Linked DNA regions of Homo sapiens. The protein of the gene in region 2 purifies or fractionates together with the protein of the main gene of each other region. This does not show direct contact. Each region holds a gene or a part of one and is shown on either strand. Other genes may lie near its edges.

Region 1 (3,500 bases), on a different chromosome or scaffold from region 2:
CCACGCCCAGCTAATTTTTTGTATTTTTTTGTATTTTTAGTAGAGATGGGATTTCACTGTGTTAGCCAAGATGGTCTCCATCTCCTGACCTCGTGATCCACCCCCCTTGGCCTCCCAAAGTGCTGGGATTACAGGCGTGAGCCACCACGCCTGGCCATGACAGCGTATTTTTAAAATGAAGTTACTAAATGAAAAATCGAAAATTTAATGGAAGCAAGACTAAATTAGTTTACTGGGTTGTCTTCTTTAATTTACTTGTATCCTTTCCGTAGACAGTCTGGCACAGGTTTGAATGTGTCCTGGCTCTTCATTACTGAGGCTAATATATGCAAAAGTGTGTCCATCCCTTCTACCTTTATTCACATTCCATTACTTTTATAGACTTTTCTTTTTTTGCTTTCATAATTAATACTGGCAGTTGACTTTCTTTTCAGGGGTCTTTCTTCACAAACAAATTTTTTTCATTTTCATTTTCTATTTTTTTTTTTTTTTTTTTTTTTTTGAGACAGGGTCTCACTCTGTCACCCAGGCTGGAGTGCAGTGGGGCAATCTCAGCTCACTGCAGCCTCCTGAGTAGTTGGGACCACAGATGCAAACCACCACACCCAACTGATTTTTCAATTTTTTGTAGAGACGGGGGTCTCGCTATGTTACCCAGGCTGGTCTCAAACTCCTGGGCTCAAGCAATCCTCCCACCTTGGCCTCCCAGCATGCTGGGATTACAGGCATGACTAACCATTTAACCATAAAAAATATTTTTTTAGTCACTTAAAAAGAGACTTTGTCATGTTGAGGGTCAGATGCTAAGTTATCAGCAGGCTCAGTCATGTCCCTCTTGATTTTTAGCTGTGGAAGAGAAATGGCCCCAGTTCATCACCCTTCTCTAGCCCAGCCTCATCCCGCTCCCAGACACCGGAGAGGCCAGCAAAGAAAATAAGGTATTCGGCATTCTCCTGCAGTTTTCATTTGCTACGTGGACAGAAGGGGGTGAGGAAAGGTGGGAAACGAACCTGGCTCTTAGGCTTTGTGCTGCTGTGACTTGGAGAATCAAAGAAACTAAGTCCCTGAGAGGGACAATGCAGCACCCACCTGAACAACTATCATCCCTACAGTCTTGGATACTGACTCCAGTGGCCTCTGGCTGTCGCCTCCCACTCCAGCATGAGGGATCGGGTGCAAGCACAGAGGCCATGCAGAGTGGAGAGCAGAGAGAGTCAAGTCAGCGGGCAGTCGCCTTCAGGTTCTTGACTCGAGCTGATCCCCTAGGTGCTTGCAGTTGGCTGGAATGCCACTCCCTCAGGGATCACATCTGTGTCTAGAACTCCCAGGGACTTGGTAGGTTGTAAGTAAGGTTTGAAGATTATTGTTTTGTGCTTGTTTTAAGACAAAAACTGTCTTCATGGCCTCTGTGAACAGCCTCCCTTCATTCTGTTGGAATTTCCTGTTGACTTTTTTTATCCTGGCATACTGAGATCTTAAATGATGGTTGTTTTAGATGTTGGCCACTTGGTAGTTAGGAGGGTGTGAGAAATTATTTAATACTTCAGCCAAGAAGTCTTTCTAGACTAAATTGTTCCTTTTTTCCCAACAGAGAAGAAGAGCTGTGTCATCATTCCAGTTCTTCAACTCCATTGGCAGCAGACAAGGAGTCCCAGGGAGAAAAGGGTAGGTTGCTGAGCCAGGAGGAGGGGCTGCTGTTGGTGGTGGAGGTATTTGTGGAGGATGTAGAGATTAATACCTATTGAAAAAAGGTCTTGAGCATTGCTATGTCTAAGGCATGTTAGATACAAAGAGAGAGATTTCCTCTCCTTCAGAAGTTTATAGTCTGATGAGGGAGAAAGGCTACAGATGGGGGCTAACGATTGGATAGAGGTAAGCTCAGTTTGAGTCACCTGTGGGTGATCCCAGTAATTACTGCACAGTAAGCGGTTTGTGTGCGCGCCTTAATCTTACAAACACCATCCAAGCAACCAAACCATAGAAGATTGAATCTTTTCAGAGATACCATCATTGAAAACTCAGTGTGAAATGCGAAGTGGGTAGACACAACCATCCATTTCTGGAAGAGGGAAGGAAGCAAACGAGTCTTGATTTCTTTCTTTAGCTGCAGATACAACCCCAAGGAAGAAACAAAACTCGAATTCTCAGTCTACACCTGGCAGCTCTGGGCAGCGTAAGCGGAAAGTTCAGCTGCTGCCTTCTCGGCGAGGGGAACAGCTGACCTTGGTATGGTCTTGTCCATCTACTCCTGCCCTCCCCGGCTTAGCTCTCCTAAGTCTTAGGAACGCTAAGGACAAGTTTCTTCTGTTTTTTTTTCTAACTTATTTTTGTTTTTGTTTTTTGAGACAACATCCCTCTGTCACCCAGGCTGGAGTTCAGTGGCTCGATTTTGGCTAACCGTAACCTCTGCCTCCTGAGTTCAAGCAATTCTCCTGCCTCAGCCTCCCAAGTAGCTGGGATTACAGGCGCTTGCTACCACGCCTGACTAATTTTTTGTATTTTTAGTAGAGATGGGGTTTCACCATGTTGGCCAGGCCAGCCTCAAACTCCTGACCTCAAGTGATCCAGCTGGCTTGGCCTCCCAGAGTGCTGAGATTACCGGCGTTAGCCACCACGCCCAGCCTTCCCGTTTTTTCTGATTGGCCTGACTTCTTCTTTTTCTCTTTGGTAGCCTCCACCTCCCCAGCTTGGCTATTCGATCACTGCCGAGGACCTAGACTTAGAGAAGAAGGCTTCATTACAGTGGTTCAACCAGGCCTTGGAGGACAAGAGTGGTAAGGAGCACAGATCGTTGCACTCTCGAGAGGTTTCAGGTGTCTGTTTTCTTTGGTTTTATTTTGGTGTTTGGAAAAATGGGTTTCTCTGGGAAAATCCGAAGTAGAGTTCCATGTTTTCTTGTGGTCTTTCTCACCTGAGATATCCGTGTTGGTCTTCACGGGAACTGGACAGCAGGGACTACTGCAATTTAGGGCAGACATTCCTCCATGAGCTGTGCTGAGAGCCTGCTCTCCGACAGGCATGTGGAAAGAAGTCCCAGACAAGCCAGGACTGCTTCACCTTTCTTTCTTTCTTAGATGCTGCCTCGAACTCTGTCACTGAGACCCCACCTACCACTCAGCCTTCATTTACCTTTACCCTGCCTGCTGCTGCAACTGCCTCCCCACCCACCTCCCTCCTGGCCCCAAGCACCAACCCACTGTTAGAGAGCTTGAAGAAGATGCAGACTCCCCCGAGCCTGCCACCCTGCCCAGGTGAGCTGGAGTGGGGCCGTGGATCCAGCCTTCTGAGCAGCATCCCCGGCTTGGGTTGGAATAAGGGCGTCGTGCCTGTCAGTCGCTGGAGATTGCTCTGCAGGCCGAACGCACCCTGGCTCAGCACACCGGAGCGGGCCTACGTTTAACAGCGCCGGAGCCCACATCAGGAAGTGTTAGAGAAGGGGTGCTGCGACGCTCAGGATCTGAAGCCTGGCTTAGCTGCCCTGAGCCTCGCCTTCCTCATTT
Region 2 (4,024 bases):
AATTGATTGTTGTAAGGTAGAAGTAGATGACCCAATAAATGTTTGTTATTAATGAAAAGGACATTTCCTAAGGATTGTGTAGTGTTCTACTGTATGGTGCATATTCAGTGGAGTGGGAGTTAACTTCATAGTTTGTGTACCATTTGGATGCACATTTGAGAGGACAACATATTATTGGCACTTTGCAATTTTAAAAACTCGGATGAAAGTTGCCCTGGTAGGAAAGAAAATCCTTACTCTCCCTAAAAATGTTGGCTAGTTGTTTTTATTAATCTGACAAATGGACTAAAGAAGGTTGACCAATGTCCACAAATTTATGTAAATGAACTTATGAGCTTCATTTATCCAATTCCAAAGTCATTTCAGATAGGATAATAATGCAATCCACTAGAATATCCCTTTGTACCTTGTATTGCAGAATAGATAAGCATTTCCCCAATAACTCTTAAGAATGAATTTATGTACTGTAAAAGATATGACATAAGAGAAGTATTTTGAGATATGAAGAAGAGCAACGTAGTAGGGTATATCATTTCTTAGCTACATCATATGGGCAGTATACTTGAATGAATATTTCCTGAAGTAGAAGAGTAAAGAAAAATTATTTTTATAAAGAATGTTAATATAGTCAGGAAGAGGAGATGTTTGGGGATTGGTATAAAATTGCCACAACTTTACAAAATAGTTTTAAATAGTATAGATTTCCCTAATATGTGTAATATAAAACACTAGAAATATTGGGGAGTTGGAAATCATAGAAATGAACAGAAGAATGATAAAATTGTTTCCATAGCTAATAAAAAATGAATTTTTGAAATCAGTATAGTATGAAGGCTCTGAGAGCAAGAACTGTATCATATTAATTATTATATTGCCAGTGACAAGGGCAATACTTAGTTCTAGCTAAGAGTTCAAGGTATGTTTGCAGAATGGTGAAAGAATGGACCAATGTATGCAGGTTTGTATAAAAACCCAACGTGATATTTCTAACAATTTGGAAAACAGAGAAAGATACCTTAAAGAAGTTGTTATAATTTTTTATTAAGTATATGGACGTAAAAACTTGGCTTGTTAAGTTAGGCACACAAAAACAATTACTGCACTGGTTAACTTGAAGCCGCAGAGGCTGTAGTTTCCTAGTGCTGACTCTGGGCGCCGCTGTTGGCCAAAGTGCAGAGCTTGGCGCTCCAGATCTCCTCGCGCAGCCGCAGCGCGCTTTCCAGGGCAGCCCCAGCTCAGACTCCCCAGCGCCGGCCTTTACACCGCTTCCTCCTCGGAAAAAGAATCGTTTCCTAAACTGGAACTGGAACTAAAGCCCGTTCGGAGATCCAAAAATCTACAATACAGAGGTTATTTGTAACCTGGCGTCTCCAGGCTGGTGAGCAAGCTGAGGAGAGCAAGAGGGATGGGGAGCGGCGCCGGGGAGCTGGGCCGGGCTGAGAGGCTGCCAGTGCTCTTTCTCTTCCTGCTGTCTTTGTTCTGCCCGGCGCTCTGTGAGCAGATCCGCTACAGGATTCCCGAGGAAATGCCCAAGGGCTCCGTAGTGGGGAACCTCGCCACGGACCTGGGGTTCAGCGTCCAGGAGTTACCGACTCGAAAACTGCGCGTCAGTTCGGAGAAGCCTTACTTCACCGTGAGCGCAGAGAGCGGGGAGTTGCTTGTGAGCAGCAGGCTAGACAGGGAGGAGATATGCGGGAAGAAGCCAGCTTGTGCTCTGGAATTTGAGGCTGTTGCTGAAAATCCACTGAACTTTTATCACGTGAATGTGGAGATCGAGGACATTAATGACCACACGCCAAAATTCACGCAAAATTCCTTTGAGCTGCAAATAAGTGAGTCTGCACAGCCTGGCACAAGATTTATACTAGAAGTAGCAGAAGATGCAGATATTGGCTTAAACTCTCTGCAGAAGTATAAACTCTCTCTTAACCCAAGTTTCTCATTAATAATTAAGGAGAAACAGGATGGTAGTAAATACCCGGAACTGGCACTGGAGAAAACCTTAGACCGGGAACAACAGAGTTACCATCGTTTAGTCCTGACTGCCTTGGACGGTGGACATCCACCCCTAAGCGGCACCACTGAGCTCCGGATCCAGGTAACCGACGCCAATGATAATCCCCCGGTATTCAACCGAGACGTGTACAGAGTCAGCCTTCGGGAAAACGTGCCACCAGGCACCACTGTGTTGCAAGTGTCAGCCACTGACCAAGACGAGGGCATCAACTCAGAAATTACTTATTCCTTCTACAGAACCGGGCAAATCTTTAGTCTGAATTCAAAGAGCGGAGAAATTACCACTCAAAAGAAACTGGATTTTGAAGAGACCAAGGAATATTCAATGGTTGTAGAAGGGAGGGATGGTGGTGGACTGGTTGCACAATGTACAGTTGAAATTAATATTCAAGATGAAAATGACAATAGCCCAGAAGTTACATTCCATTCTCTACTTGAAATGATTCTGGAAAACGCGGTGCCTGGAACACTAATTGCTTTGATCAAAATACATGACCAAGATTCTGGGGAAAATGGGGAGGTTAATTGTCAATTACAAGGCGAAGTCCCTTTTAAGATTATCTCTTCATCCAAAAATTCGTATAAGTTGGTAACAGATGGAACCCTAGACCGAGAGCAAACCCCGGAGTACAATGTCACCATCACAGCCACAGACAGGGGCAAGCCGCCCCTCTCCTCCAGCATAAGCGTCATCCTACATATCAGAGACGTCAACGATAACGCTCCGGTTTTCCACCAGGCGTCCTACTTAGTCAGTGTACCCGAAAACAACCCTCCTGGGGCCTCCATCGCGCAAGTCTGCGCCTCGGACCTGGACTTGGGGTTGAACGGCCAAGTCTCCTACTCTATCATGGCCAGCGACCTAGAGCCTCTGGCACTGGCCTCTTACGTGTCCATGAGCGCGCAAAGTGGGGTGGTGTTCGCGCAGCGCGCCTTTGACTACGAGCAGCTGCGCACCTTCGAACTCACACTACAGGCCCGCGACCAGGGCTCGCCTGCGCTCAGCGCAAACGTGAGCCTGCGCGTGTTGGTGGGCGACCGAAACGACAACGCACCGCGGGTGCTGTACCCCGCGCTGGGTCCCGACGGCTCTGCGCTCTTCGATATGGTGCCGCGCGCTGCAGAGCCCGGCTACCTGGTGACCAAGGTAGTGGCCGTGGACGCAGACTCAGGACACAACGCCTGGCTGTCCTACCACGTGCTGCAGGCTAGCGAGCCCGGGCTCTTCAGCCTGGGGCTGCGCACAGGAGAGGTGCGCACAGCGCGTGCCTTGGGCGACAGGGACGCGGCCCGCCAGCGCCTGCTGGTTGCTGTGCGTGATGGTGGACAGCCGCCACTCTCCGCCACCGCCACGCTGCACTTGGTCTTTGCTGACAGCTTGCAGGAGGTGCTGCCGGATATCACTGACCGCCCTGTACCCTCTGACCCCCAGGCTGAGCTGCAGTTTTACCTAGTGGTGGCCTTGGCCTTGATCTCAGTGCTCTTCCTCCTGGCCGTGATTCTGGCCGTTGCCTTGCGCCTGCGACGCTCCTCCAGCCCTGCCGCCTGGAGCTGCTTCCAACCTGGTCTCTGTGTCAAGTCTGGACCTGTGGTTCCCCCCAACTACAGTCAGGGGACTTTGCCTTATTCCTACAACCTATGTGTTGCACATACAGGAAAGACGGAGTTTAATTTCCTAAAATGTAGTGAGCAATTGAGTTCAGGACAAGACATACTTTGTGGTGATTCATCTGGGGCCTTATTTCCACTTTGTAATTCCAGCGAGTCGACTTCCCATCCTGAGTTGGTGAGTTTCATTTATGTCTATTCTTTTTCATTACCCACCCAATTTTCTGTATTTACATGAAACTATCGTACATTTTCAAGTCCAATGAGTTGTCTTAGGGAAGTCAGAGCTGCTCAGAAAGCTGTCCTACCATTCTTTAAGAGGAGCAGTAAATTGTGAGTTTTTATGTCGCATAAAAGAAGTAGCCTTATAGATTTACAAAGTAGTGAGAGTTTGCTCTTA
Region 3 (3,500 bases), on a different chromosome or scaffold from region 2:
GTTAGTGACACAGCTGCTTAAATAGAAGACATCTGCTTCAGTCTTGAAGCCACCAAGGATCAGCCGAATGAGGCTGTTCCAGCCCTCCCACGGTGTCTAATTTATGAGGCCAGGGGCCCTGGGATCTCTTGCACTGATGCAATGTAGCCCCCAGCCCCTAACACAGTCCCTAGCACATGGTAAGCTAAAAGCAAGTAACTATTGAATGGGTAATTGCAAAATGCTGTATCACTAGCTATTATTTATTATGGAAATCTAAAGTAAGTATTATGCCCTGCTCTATCATTTACATATTAATTATATGTGATAATGAGGTAGGCCAACAGGTGGAAAGCAATCTGAAATAAAATCTCCTCCTCTCTCAGTGTTCATGGGGTCAGGGAGCTTCCTGTTTTCCCCATCAAGATATTTATCACACTGGACTGCAACTGCACACTTCCTCGTTTGCCTTCCCTGCTGGACTTTTGCTTTGTGAGAGGGGAACATGCCTTTCTTGGTCCCCACTGTCCCCAGATATCTAGAACAGCACGTGGCAGTCAGTGAGTGCTTCCTAACCATTCAGTGAAAGGCAGAGGAAATGACTTCATCCCCATCACTGATGTGGGAACAGCTCTCCCTGCTTTGCAAGCTGCTTGTTGAAAGGTGAATAGGGAACATTCATGAGCACTTAACACTTCCTCAAAAGAAGTCTTACATTCACCCAGGAGCAGGACGCTTCAGAGAGGAATCCCTCGAGCATGCCACCCACCCCTAAAACAAGGCCGAGATTCCAGCCCAGCTCTGCCACTTACGAATGATAGAACCTTAGGAAAGTGCCATAACCCACCGCAACTCACGCAGTTTGCTCATCCGTAAAATGTAGACAATGAATCCAGGACTTACCTTGAGTAGGTTTGTAAAGAGTAAATCAGAGCCATGCATGAAAAGTCCCCAGACGGCCGGGCGCGGTGGCTCACGCCTGTAATCCCAGCACTTTGGGAGGCCGAGGCGGGTGGATCATGAGGTCAGGAGATCGAGACCATCCTGGCTAACAAGGTGAAACCCCGTCTCTACTAAAAATACAAAAAATTAGCCGGGCGCGGTGGCGGGCGCCTGTAGTCCCAGCTACTCGGGAGGCTGAGGCAGGAGAATGGCGTGAACCCGGGAAGCGGAGCTTGCAGTGAGCCGAGATTGCGCCACTGCAGTCCGCAGTCCGGCCTGGGCGACAGAGCGAGACTCCGTCTCAAAAAAAAAAAAAAAAAAAAGAAAAGCCCCCAGACTTATGCACAGCCTTGCATGTTACCTTTGAGCTGTGGGACGATGTCCTCTTTCCCTGCATAAGGGTCACAGCGAAAGCGGTCCAGGCGCTCGATGGTGCACTGGCCGACGACAGGCTTCCGCCCAAACTGCCTGTGGTCGATGACCTTGATCACCAGTGGGGGCATGTACAATTCCTCCTTGGGCAAGAACTGGGGGTCACAAAGGTAGGTTTCATTTCTCAAGACCAGACGAGGGCAGCTTTGAGAAAAATTCCCCAGATGGACCAGTCCAGATTCTCTCTGCCACACAGCCCAGAGGACTCGCAATAGTTCAGTTACTCATGTGCCAGGCAAGGAGCTCCGTGCTTAAGAGCGTGAGCTGTCAGCCAGACTGCCTGGGTCAAATCCTGGCACTGCCACCATGAACTACCTGGCTAACCCTTCCATGCCCCCATTATTTCATGAGTAATAGTAACATTGTTGAATTACTCTATGTGAAGAGTACTTAGAATAGTACCTGACCCATGCTGTGTCCTGTAAGTGTGGAATCACTGACCCATGCTCTTTACTCTCAGTCACTGCCCTATACTCTTCCCTGTGCTCTGCTTCCTGGGAGGGGACATGCACAAGGCTAACTAGCCCAGGGCTTTGGTCATCTACTAGCCAAGTTCTGAGCAGACTTTAGAAATGGTCAAGACAAAACTGAACTTCTAAGGGAAATAACTGTGGCTGAGAGTCTCTTTGCCCTGGAAATTCAGTGTAAAAATGGATTGCTACTTTCTCCTCAACTCCCCCTGGCTCCCTCTCATGGAATTTGGTGGCTTTGGTGACAATGCCTGATTGGGGAATCATGAGCTGACCTAGGGGCCCATTTGGTATGTGGTTCAGGTGAATTTCTATCTCTGGCTTGACACAGGAATAGAAACTGGGGTCACCTGAGTGGTTTTTCTCATCTCTGCTGACCAAGGCTAGATTCCAGACTAGAACTTGGAAGGTGAGGGAGGTGTGGGGAGTAGACAAGGATAGGTGGAGTGGCCCAGGGACAACCACTTTGGGACCCTGGCTGGCAGCATCCCGGTGGCTCGCCGTCTGTCGCATGATAGGGAGGGGAGCATGGGCATTGGGGTTGTAAGGACCTATGTGCAAACTCTGGCCACTCACTTGCTAGCGACATCCCCTTGTGTAAATCTGTTACCTCTTGCTTTTCCCCAAGGTGGGCATAAGAGAGGTGAAAATGTTCACCCCGCAGGATTAAAGACGAGGTGTACCAAGTAAGAATGCACCAAGCCCTACACTGCAGCTGTCACTAGTTAGGACATAGTCACTGTGGTATAGAAGGTGTGGCCTAACACTATGACACTGGATAAATCATTTCCCCTCTTTAGGCCTCAGTTTCCTCCTCTGTAATGTAAAATAAGAGGTTAAAGCACGTGACCCTAGAGTTCAAGAGCACTGTATTGGAGACATCAAGGTCAGGAAAATGACTGGGGTGGGGAAAGGAAGGTTCTAGGTCTTCCAACACTTCAAGGTAAGAAACTGTCTTTATGTCACCTATTTATATAATAGAGTAAAAAAGAAAGATTTTTTTTTTAAAGTTAAGAAATTAACTGCTTTAAAAATGGAAAGACTGGGTGGCCTCTTCTCACCCCAGGTATTATGGGGTCTGTGATGGAGAGCTGTGAACTGGATCTGATGCTCTCACATCTTTAACAACCAGAGGGTAGCCTCAATGGACCAAAGAAGGTGCCATCCCAGGGGCACCTGGAGGTGGGGCACAGTTATGGGCTGCCAAGGTCATGGCCCTATCACCCCATATACCTTCCCCCACAGCTGCCCCTTCCCCAGACAGCCAGTCCTTATCCAGAAGGTTCTGGTCCATGCACAGTTGTAGGGGGTATATCTGGTCCATGCATGACTGGGGGTTAATATTCTGCCTTCATGGGGTTGACCAACAGCTTGTAATAGATAGCTGAATAGATGGAAAGTTTACTGGAGAAATAAGTAAGTATTGCTCACAGATATTTCTGTGCCACTGGAGTTATTTTGAAGCTTTAAGAAATCATCACTACAGTGGGAGAATTTAAGGGGAAAAAGTCACTGACAAGCTGAATATAAGGCAGGGTTTTTCTATTTGTCAGGTTTTGGAAATAAACTCTGTGTTTGTGTGTGTGTGTGTGAGGCACATACTTTCATATTTCAACGCGCATGGGTGATCACAGAGAATCGATACTGTACCACTTTCATGAAGAGAACAGAACTTGG
Region 4 (3,500 bases), on a different chromosome or scaffold from region 2:
TATCAACCAGTAGCAGTGGGCAGTAATCCTGCCTTGTGGTTTGACAAAGAAGAAATCAAACTTCTGGTGTCGGTGGGTCCAAGTGTCCAGCCTGAGGCATCCTCCCCATCCCTTCCTCTCCCAGCACCTCAAACATTCATCAAGGATTTTGTATCCAAGGCCCAAAAGTTTGTTACCCAAGACGACAAATATTGACATGGATGCAGTTGATGCTGAAAATCATTTGGAATTGGAGGGAAAAACACAGCTTATTAATCAAGTGTTGGAACCCCAACATACACTTCAAGATCTCCCTGTCAGAGGAGATGCGGTTACGGAAGAAAATCTCAAGCTAAAATCAGAAAACCAAGTTTCTTAGACAATACACAGAAAATTTCATGTCAGCTTCTAGTGTTTTTCAAACAACTGACACAAAAAGCAAAAGAAAATACAGAATTGAAGCCCTTCTGTTTTATGGAATTGCTGCTGACCTTTCTTTATATGTTGGACAGATTTCAAAAGTGATAGTACCTTTGTTTGTGGTTTCATTGAATATTTATGAAGCTAATGTCAGATGTAGGCAACATTCATAGCATAACAGGAAACTTCCATAAGTTTGTGTATTATGTTAGTCTATGAGAATGTGCAAATGTATTGGAAACTTAATTTAGAATAGCACATATTTATGAAACTTAAGATGAATGTTTTATCAAATTTGCTCTGATTTGTGGGTTTAGCCCTGTCTTTTATTATAGGCTTAGTAAGATATACAAGAAAATAACCATCATGCTGTGAAAAAGTGACCCCAATCAGGTACTGACTGCACAGATTCATGTACCCTATCCATCTTCTTGGGCCCCTTCTCCACTGGCTTCTTCCTTCCTATCTCCCCTCCCCCAGGGAAAAACTGGTTTCATATTTGTAAAAGCAATTTTAATACTTAATCATCTCTGAGAGTAACCTGAACTTTAATTGTCAAAACTTAACCAAATGAAGACATTTTCTCAGCTAGAGCTTCTCATTTGTGATATTTAATACTAAGATAGAATTGCTGGTTTCTCTTTAATCAATTGAAAACAAAAAGAGACTATAAAAATGAAGATTTTTCATTGAAACTGAATTGTCAATCTGGGAAGATAATTTTTTGTTGTCAAAAACTTCTTTTTGGCCAGGTACAGTGGCTCACGCCTGTAATCCCAGCACTTTGGGAGGCCGAGGCAGGAGGATCACCTGAGATCAGGAGTTCAAGCCCAGCCTGGCCAACATGGCGAAACCCCATCTCTACTAAAAATACAAAAATTAGCTGGGCGTGGTGGTGGGTGCCTGTAATCCCAGCTACTTGGGAGGCTGAGGCAGGGAGAATTGCTTGAACCTCTAGGAGGTGGGGTTTGCAGTGAGCCTGCACTCCAGCCTGGGCAACAAAGTGAGACTCTATCTCAAAAAACAAAAAACAAAAAAAAAACTTCTTTTTTTTTTTTTTTTTTACAAAATTACCTACTTTGTATCTGAAAAGATATAAATTATGGTCGTGTGTGTTTAAAATAGAAAAGCTTAAGGGAAAATAGAAATAGGATGGAAAAGTACTTGGGAAAATACTAGTAACCAACTCCAAATATTTTCACTCCAGATTTTTGTTATCTCTGGCACAGAGTAGATCTTTTGGGAAATATATGAGAGTAGATTAAGCTCGACTAACCTGTTTTTTGGCGGGGGGACGGGGGGAGGGGACAAGGCCTGGCTCTGTCACCCAAGCTGGAGTGCAGTGGCATGATCTTGGCTCCCTGCAACCTCCACGGCTCAGGCTCAAGCCAACCTCCCACCTCAGCCTCCCAAGTAGCTGGGACTACAGGCGTGTACCATCATGCCCGGCTAATTTTTTTGTGTGTATTTTTTTGTAGATATGAGGTTTTGCCATGTTGCCTAGGCTGGTCTCGAACTTGTGAGCTCTAGCGATTTGCCCACCTCAGCCTCCCAAAGTGCTGGGATTACAGGCGTGAGCTACCGCATCTGGCCAACTTTGACTAATCTTATGTACCACATCTGGAAGAGAACAGTTACAAAGAGTTTGGTCTCAAGGTATATTTCTACTCAGCAGATTAACTTTTGCAAAATTCCTTAAGAATGTATTAGTATCAGAACTGTGAAAAATGGGAGTTTCAGATGTACACTTATTGATAATCTTGCTCAGTTTTATCCTGCTTGTTCTCCCAGAATTTTTTGTAAACTCAACTCCTCTGTTTACAGAGTTTTAGTCACTTTTAACAATTTTTTAAAATTCAGTTTGTAGACTCCATTTGTTAAGGGAATCAATATCAGAAGTAATACTAAAATGTTATAATAGGAAAAGGGATCCACTAATATAGCTTATGGTTATTAGAGCTGGGCTACCTTTAATCATGGAATAATCTTATGTATAGGTGTAAGAATGACTCACTATATGAATACATACTAATCATATTACAAACATTTTGCATCCCTTTTGTGACCTAGACAGACATTTAAATTGTGTTGCAATTCTGCTTTCTTGTTTTACAAAAAGCTGTTTCAGGAAGAAAAGAAAAGAAATGAAACCTGTCTTCTAAATGACAATCCCTCACAGCTGTTAGGGAAGACAGCCATTATGTCTTCCCTAAGTCCTTTCATCTCTTACCTTCTCTAAGGCTAAATAAACCTATCCAATTTCTGCCACCTTCCCTCACATGACATGGTATCAGGTTTCCTCACTCTTCTGCTCACACCCACCTGCACCAATTCTAGTTGGTTAATGTTCCTCTTTATTAAAGGGAGCTGGCTAGGGCAGGACACAGGATTCGGTAGGGTCTGGACAGTGCAGAGCAGGATGAGATGTCAAAAATCACTTCCCTTGTCCCCCAGAAGGTAGGGTCTATGAGGGCCTGGACTGTGGCTGATTCAGTCACTGCAGTGTCCCCAGTGCCCCAGCACAGAGGCCGGCACATACAAGCAGCTAGTCAGGAGACATCTGTTGTTTGCAGTTGTTGCTTCAGACACTGAGGTCTACAAATGCAACCCAAGGTTGCCTGATCTTTTCTGGCAGCCACTTCACAGTTGACTCCTATTGAGGTTACTGTTAACAAAAACCTGAGTTTTGCTCACATGTGCTGCTGTTGAAATTTTTCCTCCTCTAGACTTGTGCCATGGATTTTTCTGGACCATTTTAATGTCTAAAATTAGTCACCCTTAAATTTCACCATATGTGGCTGGGCTTGGCAGTTCACATCTGTTATCCTAGCACTTTGAGAGGCCAAGGTGGAAGGATCACTTGAGGCCAGGAGTTCAAGACCAGCCTGGAACATAGTGAGAGCCTGTTTCTACAAAAAGTTTAAAAATATCCAGGTGTGGTGGTTTGCACCTGTAGTCCTAGCTACTGGGGAGGCTGAGGTGGGAGGATTGCCTGAGCCCAGGAGTTCGAGGCTGCAGTGAGCTATGATCATGCCACTGCACTCCAGGCTGGGTGACAAAGCAAGACCTTGTCTCTCTATTAAAAAAAAAAAAAAATCACC

What was found. Proteins that work in one complex are often made in the same cells at the same time.
Region 1: the proteins of PCDHGB5 (region 2) and POM121C purify together in Homo sapiens (affinity purification with mass spectrometry, with the first as the bait; one large-scale study listed by BioGRID). This does not show direct contact.
Region 3: the proteins of PCDHGB5 (region 2) and MYOF purify together in Homo sapiens (co-immunoprecipitation; one large-scale study listed by IntAct). This does not show direct contact.
Region 4: the proteins of PCDHGB5 (region 2) and DHRS7 purify together in Homo sapiens (co-immunoprecipitation; 2 studies listed by BioGRID and IntAct, with this or other methods). This does not show direct contact.

What each region holds. Positions count from the first base shown.
Region 1 is NC_000007.14:75,423,800-75,427,299, reverse strand, and holds part of POM121C (nuclear envelope pore membrane protein POM 121C), read left to right. Parts: intron 1-846; coding exon 847-938; intron 939-1,591; coding exon 1,592-1,665; intron 1,666-2,104; coding exon 2,105-2,226; intron 2,227-2,671; coding exon 2,672-2,774; intron 2,775-3,074; coding exon 3,075-3,251; intron 3,252-3,500. UniProt on the Homo sapiens protein: Essential component of the nuclear pore complex (NPC). The repeat-containing domain may be involved in anchoring components of the pore complex to the pore membrane. When overexpressed in cells induces the formation of cytoplasmic annulate lamellae (AL).
Region 2 is NC_000005.10:141,396,723-141,400,746, forward strand, and holds the start of PCDHGB5 (protocadherin gamma-B5 isoform 1 precursor), read left to right. Parts: upstream 1-1,224; 5' UTR 1,225-1,405; coding exon 1,406-3,802; coding exon of another isoform or gene 3,803-3,862; intron 3,863-4,024. UniProt on the Homo sapiens protein: Potential calcium-dependent cell-adhesion protein. May be involved in the establishment and maintenance of specific neuronal connections in the brain.
Region 3 is NC_000010.11:93,346,335-93,349,834, forward strand, and holds part of MYOF (myoferlin), read right to left. Parts: coding exon 3,474-3,500; intron 1,449-3,473; coding exon 1,283-1,448; intron 1-1,282. UniProt on the Homo sapiens protein: Calcium/phospholipid-binding protein that plays a role in the plasmalemma repair mechanism of endothelial cells that permits rapid resealing of membranes disrupted by mechanical stress. Involved in endocytic recycling.
Region 4 is NC_000014.9:60,158,899-60,162,398, forward strand, and holds part of DHRS7 (dehydrogenase/reductase SDR family member 7 isoform 1 precursor), read right to left. Parts: intron 1-3,500. UniProt on the Homo sapiens protein: NADPH-dependent oxidoreductase which catalyzes the reduction of a variety of compounds bearing carbonyl groups including steroids, retinoids and xenobiotics.